Homo sapiens: one gene and its partners. The protein of the gene in region 1 interacts with the protein of each later gene in a biochemical or structural test. Each region holds a gene or a part of one and is shown in the gene's direction. Other genes may lie near its edges.

Region 1 (7,784 bases):
CGCCATGCTCCTGCCTCAGCCTCCCGAGTAGCTGGGACTACAGGCACCCGCCACCTCACCTGGCTAATTTTTTGTATTTTTAGTAGAGACACGGTTTCACCGTGTTAGCCAGGATGGTCTCAATCTCCTGACCTCGTGATTCGCCGGCCTCGGCCTCCCGAAGTGCTGGGATTACAGGCGTGAGCCACCGTGCCCGGCCTCAAAGTTGCACTTTTCTATATTGGTCATGAAAATTAACCAGACAAGGCTGTCACTGCCGAATGTGCCTCTTCCCACCTGGGTTATCTCTGCCTCCTAGAGCACCTCGCTTCAAGGAGAAAAGTGACATTTAGACAGGGCCTATACTGACTAGACAGGTCAGTTGGCTTTCTCACTTCCTTCATTCTCCTCTCAGATGGGAAAGGGAGGAGACAGCCTGAAAAGCCCGTTTCTCGCTAGGATCTAGATTGCAGTAGTTGAGAACGGACCCTGGAATCAGATGGGGCCTCCAGCCTCCATACAACTTCCAGCTCAGCCATCTAGAAGCTGGGTGACTCAGTTTCTTTCCGCCAAATGGTGGTAGTATCTACTGCAGGGTTGTTACCAGGTTTCAGTGGGATTAAGTAGAATAGCACAAAGCATAGTGAGAATGCAGTATGTGTTAGCTACGGTTATTGCTATTTAACAGATACTATGATTTTTGAGCAAGAGACATCTCTGAACCTTGGTGATCCCTGCCTACTTAATGGCACCGTCTTGCGGGAAGGGGGAATCTCAGCTTAATAGGTAAGGTGATTTTTCAAGAACTACTGAGTAGAAGATTTAAAAACCTCTGTAACGCTCCAAACCTGTAACCAATTGTATGGATAAGTAGTGTCTAGAGGGGAACTTATTTTTTAAAACTGACAATATTGGCCAGGCGCGGTGGCTCACGCCTGTAATCCCAGCACTTTGAGAGGCGGAGGCGGGTGGATCATGAGGTCAGGAGTTCAAGGCTAGCCTGGCCAACAAGGCGAAACCCCGTGTCTACTAAAAATACAAAAATTAGCCGGGCCTGGTGGTGGGCACCTCTAATCCCAGCTACTCGGGAGGCTGAGGCAGGAGAATCGCTTGAACCTGGGAGGTGGAGGGTGCGGTGAGCCAAGATCGTGCCATTGCATTCCAGCCTGGGTGACAAGAGCAAAACTCCGTCTCAAAAAAAAAAAAAAAAAAAAACCTGACAATATTTATTAAAAACTATTAAGTTTTTGGCTGGGCGCGGTGGCTCACGCCTGTAATCCCAGCACTTTGGGAGGCCGAGGCGGGCGGATCACGAGGTCAGGAGATTGACACCATCCTGGCTAACACGGTGAAAACCTGTCTCTGCTAAAAATAAAAAAAAATTTGCCAGGCGCCGTGGTGGGCGCCTGTAGTCCCAGCTACTCGGGAGGCTGAGGCAGGAGCATGGCGTGAACCCGGGAGGAGAAGCTTGCAGTGAGCTGAGATCGCACCACTGCACTCCAGCCTGGGCGACAGAGCGAGACTCCGTCTCAAAAAAAATAAAGTATTAAGTTTTTGATAATAATCAATGTACATAAACAACAGGAAATAATCAGGCAGGTCAGTCTGTAAGGGGCAACATCTTGGAATTCAATTGTTTTAAACCATAGATCTTAAAGGTTCATCTCTGTGTAGATGCTCTCAAGCATCAAGGTGCTCTCTGAATGTTTAGATTTCAGAGCTTAGGTAAGACATTTCTATGGACACAGAGGTGAAAGGGCTACAGATAAGGAGGTAGTCCAGGTGGACCAGGTGTGGATGAGCATTTGCGAGTTGGTGAAGTGAGCCCAGTGTGGAAAAGGCCTAGGACCTGTGGCATCATTCTGAGTGATGCCAAGTCTTCACTGTGGGATAAAGCCTACATGTGACTGTGCTGGTACTCAATGCTGAAAAAGATATAGTGGACACCTGGGATGACTCCTTAGGACGGCAGGAAGTTCTATAATCAGGCCAAAGTACTAGTCTTGCATTCAGAGAAGACCGTCTCCAACAACTATTACCTCATTTATGAATAATGGAGAACTGTCAAATTTGAGTGAGGGGATCAAAGGTCCACTTAGCTTAGAGGCTTTTTTTTTTTTTTAACTTTTAAAATACAGACTGGGTCTCACTATGTTCCCCAGGCTGGTCTTGAACTCCAGGGCTCAAGCAATCCACTGGCCTTGGCCTCCCAAAGTGCTGGGATTACAGGTCTGAGTCACCGCACCCAGCCAGAGAGACTCTTAATACAAAGATTGCATGAATATATCTTCTTGCAGCTGGTTTAACAGTCCCTAATTTCTGAAGCATTACTAGTCTTTTGGTTTAATTTTCTTTCTTTTTTTTTTTTTGAGACAGAGTCTTGCTCTGTCGGCCAGGCTAGAGTGCAGTGGCAAAATCTTGGCTCACTGCAACCTCCATCTCCTGGGCTCAAGCAATTCTCCTGCCTCACCCTCCTGAGTAGCTGAGATTACAGGCATGTGCCACCACGCCCGGCTAATTTTTGTATTTTTAGTAGAGACAGGGTTTCACCATGTTGGCCAGGATGGTCTTGAACTCCTGACCTCAGGTAATCCGCCTGACTCGGCTTCCCAAAGTGCTAGGATTACAGGCGTGAGCCCTTTTGGTTTAATTTTCCTAATATTCGATTTAAATTGGCTACTTGAATTTTTCTCTCCAGAAACATCTTTCTACAGCATGAGCTGTGATGCAGTCACTGTATGACTTTTTTTTTTTTTTTGAGACAGAGTTTCGCTCTTGTTACCCAGGCTGGAGGGCAATGGTGCAATCTCGGCTCACTGCAACCATCACCTCCTGGATTCAAGCGATTCTCCTGCCTCAGCCTCCAGGGTAGATGGGACTACAGGTACGCGCCAACACGCCCGGCTAATTTTTTTTTGTATTTTTAGTAGAGACAGGGTTTCGCCATGTTGCCCAGGCTGGTCTCAAACGCCTAACCTCAGGTGATCCACCCACCTCGGCCTCCCAAAGTCTTGGGATTACAGGCGCGAGCCACCGCGCCCGGCCGGCCACAACTTCTTAAGAATACCTACCTATCTGATTTTCGCCCCTTTCCTATGATGCTGAATACCTATCTGATTTTTGCAGGAACTATTTTCTGTAATTTTGCCTCAAATTATGCAGTTTTCTCTTTGGACATTTTTACCTATTCTGACAGCTCCTGCTTTACTCTTTCCATTCTCTTTCTTGGAACTAGCTTTTTCTTTTAACAAACTCCTTCCTTCATCACAATCATCCCACTCATCATCTGACACTATTTTGAGCACTCCTTTACTTTCTCTGGTGATTTAAAAAATAACGTTCAGCCAGATGCGTGGCTCAATCCAGTAATCCCAACACTCTGGGAGGCGTAGGTGGGCGGATGGCTTGAGTCCAGGAGTTCCCGACCAGCCCGGGCAACACAGCGAAACCTCGCCTCTACAAAAAATACAAAATTTAGCCGAGAGTGGTGGTGCTACTCAGGAGGTTGAGGCAGGAGGATCGCTTGAGCCCAGGAGGTCGAGGCTGCAGTGAGCCGTGATTGTACCACTGCACTCCCGCCTGAATGACAGGGCGATACTCAGTCTGGAAATAATAACAATAGTAACAATGTTCAGCTTAACCTGTGATGAGTGCCTTGACATCATCTCTTCATGAAGAAGATCCACCAAAATAAAATGGTTACAATTATTAGCCCTACAATACATCAAAAAAAAAAAGAAAAGAAAGAAAATCTGTCCCTGGCTTAGCCATTAGCCACCAAATCTGTGTGTTCAGGTGCTCTGTGACTGAAAATCTTGCCCTCGACCTGGGTCTGAGTTACATTCTGAGGTTTGGGGGCTTCTCACACCACGGAATTTATCACCTGAGCAACTTCAACCTGACAAATCCCTCCTAACGCCCTGCTCTGAGACCCCTTTAGGCGGTCTCCGGAGTACTCAGTGTACCTTTTTTTTTTTTTTTTCTTTGAGACGTAGTCTCGCTCTGTCGCTAGGCTGGAGTGCAGTGGCGCGATCTCGGCTCACGCAAGCTCCGCCTCCCGGGTTCAAGCGATTCCCCTGCCTCAGCCACCCGAGTGGCTGGGACTACAAGCGCGCGCCACCACGCCTGGCTAATTTTTTTGTATTTTAGTAGGGGTTTCACTATGTTGGCCAGGATGGTCTCGATTTCCCGACCGCCTGATCCGTCCGCCTCGGCCTCCCAAAGTGGTGGGATTACAGGCGTGAGCCACCGCGCCCGGCCTTCAGTGTACTACTTTCCTTATTTTATTTTTTGAGACAGCGCCTCGCTCTGTCGCCCAGGCTGGACGCAATGGAGCAGTCACGGATCACTGCAGCCTCGACCTCCCGGGCTCAAGCGATTCTCCCGCCTTAGCCTCCCAAATTACTGGGACCACAGGCTTGCGCCACCACGCCCTGCCATCGGCTCTCATTTCCTTTTCCCATCCTAGTCTTCCATCAGGCGTCCTTTCGGCGCACATTTCAGTGTCCTGCGGGGCTCACCAGTGTCCTTCCTCCAGGGCCTCAGGGGCAGTCAGAGGGATCTTTCCCGCCGCTCCACTCCCTCCTCCTCCTCCCCCTCCCCCTATCCCCTCCCCTCCCCTCCCTTCTCCTCTCCAGAAACGTCCTCGCTTGTCCGCCTCCACCGCCTCCCCCGCCAGCCGTGTCGGCTCTGCTCCGCGCCCAGCCGGCCAACCGGCGGCTCAGCTCTGGCGCGTCACAATGCGCCGTCGCGGCCCCGCCCCCGGACGCCGGACGCAGAAACTCCGCCCTGCCGCGGTCCTTGCGTCCTTCCGGCTCCGTCGTGGAAGCAGGACTGCGCCGCGTCTTCCTCAAGGTGGGGTTCGGGGGGCCACCGAATCGCTGTCACGCCGGCAGGTAGCAGGGGGTGGGGACGCGGGCTCCTTGGGCTTCTGTTTCCTGGTGTCCAGGGCAAAGGGCTGAGCCGGGCAGTAGGGCCTAGTCGGGGCCTGGCTCGCCGGGAGCAGGAGGGCTTCCGGCAAAGCCGCGTGCGCTCGACGGGCAGGCGCTGAGGATTGGGGCCGGCAGCGCGCCTGACCCCGCCCCTCGTAGGCTCCGCCCCGTGCTCGCAGGCGGGGGTTTCCATGGTGATGGTCAACAAGCCTCAACTGCCTCTGCTACAACTGCCAAGTTCCCCGCGTCCCACCCTCCTCTAGGTGCTCCAAGGGACCACCGGGGTGCCTGATATGAGAGCGGGAGTGTAGAGACTCGGAGGCCGAGGTGAGGGGCGGCCGAAGTCTCCGAGGTCGAAGGCCGCACACCCGGGACCTAGCGGGGACCGGGTCCCCCTGGGGGTGGGGACGGGGGGTGGGATTTGAGATTAGGGAGACTATCCGAAGTCCAGGGCCCCGTACCCGGACTACCTGGGGACTGGGCCTATTGGGGTGGGGATCGTTGGGCTGGGGCTGGGATTTGGGATCAGGGAAGAGCGATCTGAGTTTAAGCGCCGCAAACCTGGGACCGAGCGAGGACTGCACATAATGAGGGGCCGTGGCGCTGAGATTTGGGTGACGGGATTCGAGGTCGAGGGGCCCGTACGTGGGACCGGCAAGAACTGGACCCACTGGGATCGGGAGACGCAGCGTCGGAGGTCGAGAGCCGCACGCCCAGACAGTGGTCCCACGCGGTGAGCACCGCGGGCTGAGATTTTGGAGTCAGGAAAGCGCGGGGAAGGCACGGACGGCCGGGTGCGTTAGTCCGGCCCCCTGGCGGGGAGCTGGCGACTGCCGGAGGGCTCTGAAAGTGAGAACAGGCCTGGCGCAGTGGGAGGCCCAGCCGGGAGGATCTCTTGAGCCCAGGAGTTCCCGACAAGCCTGGGCAACATAGACTGTCTCTACTGAAAAGTAAAGAAAAAAAAATTAGCCACGTGTGGTGGCGCGCGCCTGTTGTCCCAGCTACTCGGGAGGCTGAGGCGGGAGGGTCGCTTGCTCTGAGGTCGAGGCTGCAGTGACAGTGATTGTGCCACTGCATTCCAGCCGGGCGACGGAAATGAGACCTTGTCTCAAAAGAAGTAATAATAGTAATAATACCTGAGTAAAATGAAAGCCGCGCGCTCACGTGGCTGCAGGCGCCTGAGAGTTGCACAAGACTTCCTTGTGGGGAGTTGGCTCCGCCCTCCTCCCACGCCCGGTTCCCGTAGCCTTAGCTCTCGGCCCCGGGCCCTTTTTCCTCCTCGGCTGCGCCGCGTGTCCTCGGAGCGCGGTCCCTGTATTGGTCTCCTGCTCCTAGAGGTATCGTGTTTGTATTTGGGGTGAAAATCTGACTCGTGCGCGCTCTTCAGCTTAGTCGTCCTTTTTTTTTTCCTTTTGTTTGTTTGTATTAAGTATTTTCGTCGATTCCGCCCTGCTCGTAGGAAACTTGTGGACGGGGCCCGGCTCCTGCTGCGCCGGCTGCCCGGCTCCCCCAACCGCAGAGTCGTGGACCAGGGTTTTGAGGAGCAAGGCACCCGACTCGCCCTCCCCCCAAGGCCGCCCCGGGCGCGGGAACCCCTCCCCCTAGGCGCCTGGGACCCCCGCTCGGCTCCGCGTGTGTCCCGGCGGAGGGTGGAAGGAGAGCCGAGCTCGGCCATTGCCCGCGGGCGGCCCGGGGACGAGCTGACGCGCCTCTTTAGTTCTCGAAACTGCTCGCGGGCGCTGGGGGCTCGGGCCGGCCATCTGCGTGGCGGGACGCGAGGCGCGCGCTGGCGGCTGCGCGCGAAGGGCAACGGGCGGCGGCGGCGGCTTCCCGGAACCGCGCGGGGCGGGCCCTGCGCCGGGGTCAGGGCCACAGCCTCAGGCGGCAGGGAGTTCTGAAAGCGTAGTTTTCAGTCGTTCCGTCCCAAAAGTCATCTTAATTCTTCCAAAAATACACGCATATAATTCTTTCTACTTAGTTATATTTTTAAAAGTTAAATACGTGGTTGTCTCTGAATTCCTAGTAAGATGAAAATTTCTTGGGTTCTCCAGGTAGGTGAAAGATACCTTAAGTGCTATTCCTGCAAAGTGACTCGTTGCTCTCACAGAATTTATAAACTATAAAATAAGACATTACTACTTTAATGAATATTAAGAGAGAGATTGCTTTATTCCTAAGCAAGAAGATCTTTTCCCTTGTAGGTATTACATTCCGGTGTGCATTCTGTAGATTAGAGTCATTATCGGCCGGGCGAGGTGGCTCACGCCTGTAATCCCAGCATTTAGGGAGGCCGAGGTGTGGGAGGATCGCTTGGGCCCCAGAGACCTACCCCGTCTCTATAAAAAAATATGTATTATTTTTTGAGACAGGGTCTCACTTTGTTGCCCAGGCTGGAGTGCAATGGTGTGATCTCGGCTCGCTGCCGAGATCCTCCTGTGCTCAACGGATCCTCCCACCTCAGCCGCCGAGTATCTGGGACCACGGGCACTCTCCAGCACGCCCGGCAAATTTTTGTATTTTTTGTAGAGATGGGGTCTCCTTATGTTGCCCAGATTGATTTTCAAACTTTTGTGCTCAAGCGATTCTCACGCCTCTGCCTCCCAAAGTGCTGGGATTACAGGCGTGAGCCATCGTGCCCGGCCACTTTTTTGTAAACTGCCAAGTTTTCTGTTAAGGGTAGCGTTATAAAGCTTTATTCAGGTAAAAAATGGAATTTATTTAAGGGAAAAGACTGAGTAAATAGAAAGTTACTTCTCCCACGTGGCCAGAACCTTGGAAAGCCTGGAGGCAAATGAGAGCCCGGTGGGGGTAGATGCCTGCAGGGGCTGCAGAAATGTGACAGGCCCTTTCCTTGGAGGTGACTTCTCTAATTCC
Region 2 (7,032 bases), on another chromosome or scaffold:
ACAGGCGCTATGGAGTGATACCAGGTAAAGAGGGGAGAGATTTCTGTGAGGGAGAAGTTACTATTTTATGTAAGTTGATTAGAGAAGGCTTCGGTGTGAATGGCATTTGAACAAAGACTTGCCGGAGGTAAGGTAGCAGCCATATAGCTGTATGGGGAAAAGCTGTGATCCAAAGGTAACCATGGGCACAAAAGCCTGAAGACTATAGGGTTCCTGTCATGTTAACAGAAGAGCAAGGAGGCCAGTGGTGCTGGAGCAGAGTGAGTGAGGGGGAAGTTGTAGGAGATAAGATTAGAGAGATAGCAGAGGGTTGCATCTTATAGGGAGATTATAAAATTATACTTCTGTGTTGAGACTCGACTATCAAAGATTAAGGGGGGTAGGATTAGGAGGCTATACCAATGAAGTTCATGTAGTAGTCCATTTATAAACAAGGAAAAGGAAATGCTAAATGGAAAGTAATGTGTATGGATACTAGTCCAGTGCTAAATCTTAACTAATTGCTTAGACTTGCTTTAAAAATGTCTCTGAAGCTTTTTAGTTACTATGGGATATGCAGTCCATTGTTTGTTCTTTTAAGAAAGTATTTAGATTGTTCAAAATCTTAGCTAGAAACAATACGAATACAATTTTGGGAATTTGGGCAATTTACAAAAATTTCAGATTTGCTGTATTAGCCCCATTTAAGCTTCTTAGAATTAGGTCCTTGTCTTTTGGACTGTGGCTGATTTTTTTACTTAACTAAAGAAAAAAATAGAAGTGAAAGGATTTGTTATTTTGAGAGAGTATAGTTTATTTCAGAAGTGATGGTTGCCTGTTTTAAGTCTGCGGGCTCAAGGCATGTTATCTTTCAAGTTGTTCAATATCAAAATAGATGAGCCAAAAAGAAGGGAACAGTGTGCTTAAGGTTTAAAAACGTAATGTTGAAGTTGTTGGTTTTAGTTACTTTACTTTTCTATTTTACAGGGTTGGTTTTTGTTTTCCATTTTGTGGGTCTAAAATTTCTTGTAAGGCTATAAGATGTACAGTGTACCCGTATAAAATTAGGATTGACTTATAGAGGGGAAATTTATTTGGTTTATTAAGATCCTTTCAGATGGATTTTATACCTGCTTCTCTATACTAGCCAAGTCTGTCTGAGTGAAGTGGTAATGTTATCTTTAATTTACATTTTAAAACTTTTACATAGTTAAATTTTAATAAAAAATCTGTTCTTGCCTTGGGAACTACCATAGATACGTTTTCTTCAGGGTACATTGAGCGAATTCCCCAAATTGTATTCGTATTGTTTTATTTCATTTCCCTGTTCCCTTACCCAGGTTGTCTTATGAGTTCAATATCATGTTTCTGTTCGTAAGTTCAGATTTTGTCTGTAGTCTTCACCCCTTTATAGTCTCTCAACTATCAGGTGAAAGTGGAACATTTCTTACCTCTTAATACTTTCTGCCTCCTCCCATTCTCCAGACAAATATTGTCCTTTAATATAGCCAAAATGAACAAAGGGTTTGCAGTTCAGAGATGTGACTATGTACATGTATTTTCTAGTTGTTTCTCAGAAATCATACCTTCTCTTCCCACAGCACTATTTTCCCCTTTTCAAGCTTATAAGAGGGCCTAGGAGGGTTGCTTTAAAGGCTGTGGTATGATTCCAAACTGGAACAAGCCAGCTGGAAAGTTAAGTTAGGAAGACTGTAGAGGTGGAATAAAGGGTTGGCAAAATAGATGAGCCAGAAAGAAGGGAACAGTGTGCTTAAGGTTTAAAAAACAGCAACAAAAAATAACTGCTCTCATTCAGCTAGTTTTTCAGCATCTGCATTCTCCCAACCTCACTGAAATTTGGTTCTGAGGAGCTCTGCTTTCTAGAATACGGTTTCTTAACATCAGCACTATTGACATTCTTGGCCAGTTATTTGTTTTGGGAGATGCCCTATGCAACGTGAGATATTTAGCAGCATGCCTGGCCCCTACCCACTAGATGCCAGTTGCTTCCCCTAGTTTTGACTACTAAAAATGTCTCCAAGGTTTGCCAGATGACCACTGGGGGCAAAATCTACACCCTGTTGAGAACTACTGCTGTAGAAGAAGGCTATTTGAATGTCCTAGCTGGCAGCTTGCGTAAATATTACATCAATTATGCTTTTTTTCAATAAGTGAATCCTGGAAATGAAAGACCTTTGTGTGAAATTTGGCACTTTGGGTGGTGGAACCTTGATAGGTCCTGTGACTTAGGTTTGATCTATACTTAAGAATCAAGGTCCCTGAACCTCTGTGCCACACATGTCTACAACTTTACACAGGCAGATATCTCCAGGAATAAATACATCTCAGCTCTCATGCTGCATGCGTATTATACTTTTTGTGGCATTATCCTTTCAAAATTATAGTCAGTGGACATTCAGTCAGGTTATCATGGTAATTAATGGGTTGGGAAGTTGACGTACAGAGTGTCTTACCCTGTAACCTTTATAATACCCCCCCTCAGATCCTATGTGGATAGTAATAGATTCGTTTTATTCAGCTTCAGTTCATGTGGTATCTGAAGATCATTTCAGTCATTCAATAGATTTAACATTCCAAGCTTAGAATAGCCAGGTGCTGTGTTTTATGAGAATCACCATACATCATTTTCAAGCCAAGTGTTCCATAGGCAAGTAAGTGATTATGAACTTTGTAACAATAATTCCTTTGGCTGTTCAGATCTGAAGATTGAAGTTATATGTAACTTGCTACTGTGTAACCATATATCCAACTGCAGATTTTCATTATTAATACCGATTCCCTGCACAGTTACAGGCTCTTGCTTTCTTGTCCATATGCCGACCAAATAATTGAATCAATGGAAGTCGAAAATTGGATTGTATTAGACTAGCCAAAGTGTTTAGCAGCAGCATCAGGTTCCATACTTAACACTATTATTTTAATTTTTTAAGCTTTATGTTATACCACAAAAGGACTTAGGTGAGTGTGTTAAGGCTTTAAACAAAGTGGTAAGAGATACAAACAGCAAGGGTCTTAATAGACAGGTGTTTGAGGTTAATTTTTAGCACACCTTCATTCAACTTGAATTGTTGAGCAATCAAAAAGACAGATGCTTGGTAATGATTTTAGAATGGTAGATTTAAAAAACATAGAGATTATTCGAATGATATGGTTTTTAAATAAAGCAGTTATCAGTAATTCAGTTAATAAAAGCTAGTTAAAGCAGGAATTGTAAAACGTGGTCCTTTTTTCCACCAATTTTTTGATATAGTGCTCAGGACTTTTCTTTGAATATACGTATACTGACTGTCGTTCCCATTATTTAGGATAAACTATACCGTTGTGCTGCATCATATGCAGAACTGAAATTGTTAATTGAAGACTTGAGATTAGAGCTTAGAAACATGTGAAGCAAGTGAGAAATCCTAATGTTTTATGCTCCTTTTTCCCATCTTTTGAAGCTTTCCTCTTTATAGCTGATATGACAGCTTTTTTTTCTGATCAAGTCTTTCCAAAGCATTCGACTTGGTTTTGCACCCTTATTTTGTCATTTACATAATACATTATTAGACTAATGAATACTACTGGTACTAACAGGTTTCGGAACAAGCAACTGAGGATCAGTAAACAACTCAAGTTAAAAGAATGGGAGTAGCGGTACATGAGTATTCTAACTACTAGTGTTTAACATGTTGTTGGCAGCTTTCCAGCTTGTCCACAGAAATGGACAGGGCTGCTGATTGCATAGCTCCATGGGCACTACTCACACAAAATTTAACATAAATAATGCCTCCTGGAGTTATTGTATATAGTGGCTCTGGGAATGGGAGGCTGTTGGTTAATCTAGCTTAGTCTGAGAAATGGAGGGTCTGTGAAGAGCTTCTACTCTGTAAAAACATAGGGCCTGGTAGAAAAGAGATTATAACCTAAAAAGGTTAAATAAAATTTGTGATAGCAGATTTATCATGTAATGTTAATTTTTTATGTTGCTGAAATAGGTGGGCAGCCTCACAAAAGGAGAAAGACCTCTGATGCAAATGAAACTGAAGATCATTTGGAATCTTTAATATGTAAAGTAGGAGAAAAGGTATGTCACACAATAGGCACAGGCTGTGATGGGTTTAAGAATGTGGTTAACTGTGCTTTGATTAATTTTTGCAGCTGAAAAGTTGGACTACATTTTGGCAAAGCTGGTATTACCATGCATCTGTATCCCAAATTGAATCCATGTTGAAGCCCCTGGGATGTAGATAATTGATCATTTTTAGTACTTTAGTAATTAATAATTTTCATAGAAGATGAGCCCTTAGAAGGGACCTAGGGTATAGACCCCTTAATTTATGCATGAACTAAATCAGCCCTGAATACTTGAGGTAATTTGCCCAGAGTAAGAGAGTGAATTAGTAAAAGAGGTAAAATGGAGCCCATGGTGTCCTCCCATTTCTAATACTTATTCTGTTATCATAGACTGCTTAGTTTTTAAATTTCACTCGTCCACTTTTCATGGATTTCTGAAGAACAATAACTATCTGAATTGATTTATACTAAACCCATTATAGCTCTGTATGCATGTAAGACTATTTTAATGATCATGCAGAAGTTTTTATTTTAGTTCACTAAAATAGCAATTGAAAGGACAGATGATTGGTAATGATTTTAAAATGATAGATTTTAAAATATGTATATATTTACATTTAAATAGATTTTTAAAAATAAATTTATGTTGCTGAGTACTTGACAGATATTTAATGTGATGTCCTCTACAGAGTGCCTGCTCTTTGGAGAGCAACCTAGAAGGCTTGGCTGGTGTTTTGGAAGCTGATCTTCCTAACTACAAGAGCAAGATCTTAAGGCTTCTTTGTACAGTGTATGTATGCAAAAGATTTATGAATCCAGGTGATAATGTATTATCTACTCTTAAATGCTTTGGGAAATGTTCAAAATACATGTTTATGTTCTATATGTCCTTGGCTTTACTTCTATGGGGAAATTTGTACAAATGAGCCAACCTTTGGCGCTTTGGCGAACTCTTTTTCTTAGGGATAAAACTAAAATTGAACATTTTCCTTGTATGTTCTTACAACCTTAGAATCATTTTAGTTGACTTTTTATAGAGATAGTAGATACTGTCTCATTCAGATATATATTTTTAAGCATGTACATTTAAATGTATGATACTTACATTTTTAAATTAGTACCAGACAAATTTGGGAATTGGTAACTCAGGTAATAGCCCTTCTTGGAAGACTGAAGATGCTTTGGAAGCCACTGTTAATAGGCATACTCTCTGGATAAATGGGAGTCTTTGTAGTTACATGAAATTGTAATGTATCCATGAGGTGTTTTTAAATTATGAAGGTGATGTTTATCACTTCTCAGCCTTTTAGTTTAGATCAAGTGAAGGTAACTTTAAGAAACTACTAAGGAAATCTTCTGAAATCCTTTATTAAAATGGAGTAGTATTTACACTTAAACTGTTGGAAGCCTTGTTTGTTTAAGGCTGAACTTGTATTGCTTCGCAGTGTTCTTTTTTAATTTTTGGTTTTGGGAGGGTTTCAGGGACCACAGTTACCATCAACACAGGTATTTTTTTTGAAGACCTTGATTGTCCCTGATGTTCTGCTAGGTACTTTAGGAAAACAAGTCAAAGAGAATCTCTTGCCCACTTAATGATTATGAATTCTTATTGCTTTTTGAGCTAATTCTAAAGGCTGCCTAAATTAGGAAAAATTGCTTTTTCTAAAGGTTTATTGTAATCCTTTCCCATACTTTTAAAATAACTTTAATGAAATCAGCACACTTGGAGTAAGCAACTGAGACGTAAACAAATCTTAACTATATCAGAGTATGTTTTTAAAAAATTCAATAATTAAACTGGTAGGAACTTAGATGAAACTCGTTTTAATTGTGCATCTTTTCTAAACAACTAGAATAGTGTTTCTCAAAGTAGAATTCTAGTTCCATGACATTTGGTTAGCTAAGTTTAGAAATTCTGAATGCTGCACGCCCCCCCTTAATGATTCTGTATTAAAGAGGCTTGTTTCACCCAGGATTTCTGAGCTATTTTACCATGGAAACCATGTTCTGTGGAAATGCTATTCAGTTCCACTAAGCACACTTGAAGAAAAACTGTTGTAGCATTAGTTTTATTTATTTCAGTATGATAACTTTACAATTAAATCATTTACTTTCTTAACTCTTAGATTAACTGATGAATTAAAATGAAAAATTACGGGACTATGTCTGTAACATTTCTCAATGACATGCTTTTTCTGAAGTATTTTTAAAGACATAGCTAAAAGTAATCCTGTTCCAAAGTTAATGGAATGATAAAAAGATTCACATAAAATTCAGCAACTTAACGCCATTGTTTTGGGGTTTTCTTGTTATACTGGGTTCTTAAATCAGTGCACGCCTATTACCTGAGAAGCTGACAATTTATACAACATTAGTTGGACTACTGAATGCCAGGAATTACAATTTTGGTGGAGAATTTGTAGAAGCCATGATTCGTCAACTTAAAGAATCATTGAAAGCAAACAATTATAATGAAGCCGTGTATTTGGTAAGTTAGTTTGTTTGTTGGTATGTTATGACTACTGTTGGGATGGAGGGAAAAGGTGAACTACAACCAAATAATTTAAAATGCTCTCCTAAAACATTCTCATTCACTTTCATAGCTTCATAAGCCACCTTTATTTTGACGATACCCCCAAATCTGTAACTGTATCTCCAACCTTTCTCCTGAGCTCCAGTCCAGTATTCCAGATGCTAGCTGCATAGCCTTCAGATACCTTACTAGGAAGTGCCTAAATTAATGCATCATTCATACCTCCTTTTTTCTGCCCTCTCCCCAGCTCATACAGTGGCCACTGTGTACTGAATAACCCATCTAGAAAGCTGAGCATTAATTTTTGTCTTCCCTTTGCCCTCTCGTACCATAGGTGTTCCCAATCCCTGTCAATTCTGTCTCCCTAATTTCTCTCAAGTCTGTCCTTTCTTAGTCTCCAGGGCCTCTAGCATAGTTTATGCCTTCCTCCAGATGTTCTTAAT
Region 3 (4,655 bases), on another chromosome or scaffold:
TTTCCAAACCAGAATTAATGAATGTCTCTACCGTACTTAGAAATACTATTTAAGCAAGGCTCTGAAGTTGCTTAACTTTTGTCTCTATTTGAAATTCTAGGGTGACAATGAAGAACAAGAAAAATTACTGAAGAAAAGCTGTACGTTATATGTTGGAAATCTTTCTTTTTACACAACTGAAGAACAAATCTATGAACTCTTCAGCAAAAGTGGTGACATAAAGAAAATCATTATGGGTCTGGATAAAATGAAGAAAACAGCATGTGGATTCTGTTTTGTGGAGTATCCTTCCCATGGATCTAATGTAGCTGCTGAACCAGGGTAGAGCTGAGAGTGGTAGCTCATAAGCGTCCCTGCACTCGTCCCTACGTTTTCCTTCATCTCCCTCCTACTTTCCACCCAGTGTGTCTCTGCCCTTATACTGTAAAGCTGATACTATTTATATTCTCTTCTGAAATCCATGCTTTATGGTTCTTTAACAAAAAGTTTTTCAAGAATGTTTGCCCTTCACGTAAAAAAAAAAAAATTCCAAAGAATGTAGTGAAAATATAAAAATCTCGTACTGTTCTAAACCCCTAATGCCCTTTGCCAGAGGCAGTCAGTTACCAGTTTCTTGGGCGTCTTTCAAGAAGTAACCCTGTGGGTGTGCGGTAGTGTATTTCATGTGCTGTTTTTAAAATCATTTTTTTATTTTTTATTGTTCCATTTCAGCATATGTAGGTCTTTTTTTAAAATAGCTGTACAGCTGGGCATGGTGGCTGGTGTTTGTAGTGCCAGCTGCTCAGGAAGCTGAGGCAGGAGGATCAGTTGAGCCCAAGATTTCAAGGCTGCACTGAGTTGTGACTGTGTTCCAGCGGGGGTGACGGGTTAAGACCCCATCTTTAAAGAAAAAAACTTTTAAGTAAATAGCTGTATAGTATTTCATTATATAGATGTATATAACCTGACTGTATAGGTACAAACCAAAACTATTTACTTTGATCATTTAATTCCCTTACTCAGACTCTTTTAAGTATTGGACCTCTTGGATTTATCCTATGTTCTTTTTACTGTATGTTTTGGTCATTCAATTTAATATTCTGAGAAATTTTGCAGGCCCAATTTAATATATCTTTTGAATTTTTTCCTGTGCCCTGAATTATGTTTGTTTCGGTTGAAATTTTTCCTTAAGTGTCTGGTGATCCCTGGATTTCTGCTCATAATTAAGGAAAAGAATGCTGACTCACTGGACCCAGGCAGGGCTTCTCTCCCAGATTGCAGGCTTGCCTCGGGGATACACAGGTTTCCCAAATGCTAGAATGAAAAGAGATTTTATTTTGGCTTGCTAACATCAAAGATACTAGTTTCTCCAGATGGTTTATTCAGAACACTGTTGTCTTATTTTTATTTGTCTGAGATTAAATGTCTTCCCCTTTAATTAAAGGGAGGTCTCTGATGAAGTAGGTTTGGGAACTGCTACCTTGGTGACAGCTTGAGTCTTTCCTTTAGTGAAGTGCAGCACAATTCCACGTGCACGGTGACCTTCTCTTGATTAGGGTGCCTTGGAATGTACAGAACCTAACTTGAATATACAGCACTGGTTTCTTGGATAAGAAGTGTACAGTGATCTAAACTTGCAAACCAAAATACAGAGATGATGGGACCAAAAATTATCAACAGGAATGTCCAAGAAATATGATCAGTGTAGCCATGGATACGTGTCATATTTGACTCTATGTGCTTCCAAACCAATCGCAAACAGGCCTGGGCAAGCTGAATTACTGTCTTTGAACTCCATCTGGTTGGATTAGCTCTTGTACTTTTTAACAACTCAGCTTCATTTACATGTTGTTCCCCTATTTCCAGAAATGTTTGGAAAAATGCTAGTGTTCCTTAATACTTAAGATATTACTCACGCGCAGATGCGGAAAACGCCATGCGGTACATAAATGGGACGCGTCTGGATGACCGAATCATTCGCACAGACTGGGACGCAGGCTTTAAGGAGGGCAGGCAATACGGCCGTGGGCGATCTGGGGGCCAGGTATGCAAGAAGGGTCTCTGGGCTCAGCCATTGCCTGGGATTCCAGTCACAATGACAGGTGTTTTGGCAATTTGTATTTACTCTTTTGTAAATAACTTTGTGTCTATAACCTTGGCTTGAAGTGGATCTGAAAACCACCCAACGGTTTGGGTGAATTTTTTTTTTAAACCGTGAAATGGTATGTTCTGTACGTTTCTAACAAGCAACCATTCTTGAACTTCTGCTAGGGCTAGGTATCTTCCACCTGCAGGAACATCTAAAATGAAAGCAAAACGCACTGAAGTGAGCTGAAGTGCATATGTCCTGCTTGAAATGTTCACATTGTGGCATCTGAACAGGTTTCACTGTTTGTCTAACATGTTTGTGGGAGGCATATTTGTTACACCATTCTTTTCCATACTGTAACTCTGGATTCTTTCCATTAAAGGTTCGGGATGAGTATCGGCAGGACTACGATGCTGGGAGAGGAGGCTATGGAAAACTGGCACAGAACCAGTGAGTGGTGAGAGCTCTGTCAGTGACAAACACTCCTTTGGCCTGTTGAATTTGCTGAAGAACATCACCTAAAGTCTGCACACGAGCCCATTTTTACCAAGATTTGATCAGTGTCTTTACTGAGCTGGAAGCCTCTGAAAGTTATTAAAGGACAGAATCCAAAAGAATGCCTTTAATTCTTGTCTGAGAATCTTGGCCATGTGTCAGATTATCAGAACAATTTTGTTACCAGGTCAGAAATTGTGTTCTTTGACAACAGATTGGATCTGTAATGTTGATTAGTCTTTAGCCATAACCACTACACTTTTAGAAAGACAGAAAAATGTAAGAATTTGTTTTTACCATAATGAGTCTTAAGTAGGTTCATGATCTACATTGGGGCCTGGGATTATTTTTTTAATTTTAAGTTTGCATGAGATAGCCTAATAAATGGAGGTGGGGCCAGGCATGGTGGCTCACACGTGTAATCCCAACACTTTGGGAGGCTGAGGAGGAAGGATAGCTTGAGGCCAGGAGTTTGAGACTAGACTGGGCAACATAGCAAGACCCCGTCTCTACAAAGCACAACGAAAAACAACAAATGGAGTTGTGCTATGTTGTATTGCTTTGCACAAAATTAGGAACAGGTGTTTGACAATTGAATTTGTTTTCTGTGAATTCTAACCTCTAAAGGCATGCTTAGAGGTCAAGGACCTTCCTGTGTAGTTGGTGCAAAAGCAATCTCCACAGGACAGCACTGCTTCCATGCTTCATACATCAGGAAATGAGGCCAGAACTTGAGTATTTACTAACACGTTTTTCAAAAGATGTCAGTGTTATACCTAAAGCTAAAAAAAAGCAAGGGTTTGTCATAGAGGGAACCTCTAAATAATTTCAGGGGTAGGGGAGATGTTGTCAATAGGAAATGGGATAAAATATCAAGAGACAATGAAAACACTGCCTTGACATGAGGACCAGCAAGTTTATTCTTTTCATTTTCAGTGATGTTGGGAATGGACTGGGTTTTAAAAGGGAGCTTGAAGAGGGAATGTTTGACAGTCACAGAAGGTTCCTGCAGCAGATGCCTCTTTTAGCCATTTCTCATTTTTTTCCTCAAATTTTACCTACTGAGGCTCAAGCCTTCACAGTGAGCTGATGGTCTCTACAGGGAGGGGAGTCTAGGGAATTTATTTGGTATTTGTAAGGCAAGAGGTGATTTCTCTCTAATATATCTGAGTTATTGCTCATTTAAAACTGTTAAGTCCAGTATAATTTTCCCTGATATGAAAAAATGTGCATTTTTTTCACTTAGCAACAAAGTACCTTCTAATTTCCAATAGTCCGTGAAAGTTGGGGCTGAAGTACCTAAGTGTGAATGTCTCTCCCGTTAAACTGAGTGTAGAAATCTGAATTTTTAAAAGAGCTGTAACTAGTTGTAAGTGCTTAGGAAGAAACTTTGCAAACATTTAATGAGGATACACTGTTCATTTTTAAAATTCCTTCACACTGTAATTTAATGTGTTTTATATTCTTTTGTAGTAAAACAACATAACTCAGATTTCTACAGGAGACAGTGGTTTTATTCGGATTGTCTTCTGTAATAGGTTTCAATAAAGCTGGATGAACTTATCGTTGTTGCTGCCTGTTTCCTGGCCTATAAAGAGGGTTGTGTTCTGGAATTCCTGTACTCTGGATACACATGAATGAGTTCCAGGGGGATTCTATGAATAGTGTGGACAATTCGCGTGTCCATTTTGATTGACTGACAGTTGGAAATAACTATTGCTGCGTGTGAAGAGAGCGCACAGATTTTCTTGTGAAAGTGATCAAATAGGCACCAAGCAACCTCTACTGATGGAAGAATAGGTTAGTTTTCCAAAAAACATGCTCTGGATGATTGCAAGGGAAGGGAAATTGTGGGTGGATTAAGAACATCTTATGTTTCCTGGGCTAGAGAACACTAAATGTGAGTCTCTTTACTGCACCATTCTTTCCTATTTCTCATGGATAGCATCTGACCTGTTTCTCACTTTAATCGGAGAAAAGTGAAAATTCAAACGTACAGATGAAGGCATCACTATTAATACATGTTAGTGAAGTGTGAGAATTAAACATTCAGTTTCTCAGTCAAGCTAAGATGAAGATATAGAACATTTCC

What was found. The genes of interacting proteins can lie anywhere in the genome.
Region 2: the proteins of HNRNPF (region 1) and NCBP1 form a complex in vitro, tested with the Homo sapiens proteins (one study listed by BioGRID).
Region 3: the proteins of HNRNPF (region 1) and NCBP2 form a complex in vitro, tested with the Homo sapiens proteins (one study listed by BioGRID).

What each region holds. Positions count from the first base shown.
Region 1 is NC_000010.11:43,406,180-43,413,963, reverse strand, and holds the start of HNRNPF (heterogeneous nuclear ribonucleoprotein F), read left to right. Parts: upstream 1-4,777; 5' UTR 4,778-4,833; exon of another isoform or gene 4,834-4,874; intron 4,875-5,106; exon of another isoform or gene 5,107-5,237; intron 5,238-6,185; exon of another isoform or gene 6,186-6,247; intron 6,248-7,784.
Region 2 is NC_000009.12:97,636,817-97,643,848, forward strand, and holds part of NCBP1 (nuclear cap-binding protein subunit 1), read left to right. Parts: intron 1-3,977; coding exon 3,978-4,066; intron 4,067-4,745; coding exon 4,746-4,846; exon of another isoform or gene 4,847-4,852; coding exon of another isoform or gene 4,853-4,875; intron 4,876-6,387; coding exon 6,388-6,544; intron 6,545-7,032. UniProt on the Homo sapiens protein: Component of the cap-binding complex (CBC), which binds cotranscriptionally to the 5'-cap of pre-mRNAs and is involved in various processes such as pre-mRNA splicing, translation regulation, nonsense-mediated mRNA decay, RNA-mediated gene silencing (RNAi) by microRNAs (miRNAs) and mRNA export.
Region 3 is NC_000003.12:196,934,878-196,939,532, reverse strand, and holds the end of NCBP2 (nuclear cap-binding protein subunit 2), read left to right. Parts: intron 1-100; coding exon 101-282; intron 283-1,884; coding exon 1,885-2,023; intron 2,024-2,450; coding exon 2,451-2,522; 3' UTR 2,523-4,127; downstream 4,128-4,655. UniProt on the Homo sapiens protein: Component of the cap-binding complex (CBC), which binds co-transcriptionally to the 5' cap of pre-mRNAs and is involved in various processes such as pre-mRNA splicing, translation regulation, nonsense-mediated mRNA decay, RNA-mediated gene silencing (RNAi) by microRNAs (miRNAs) and mRNA export.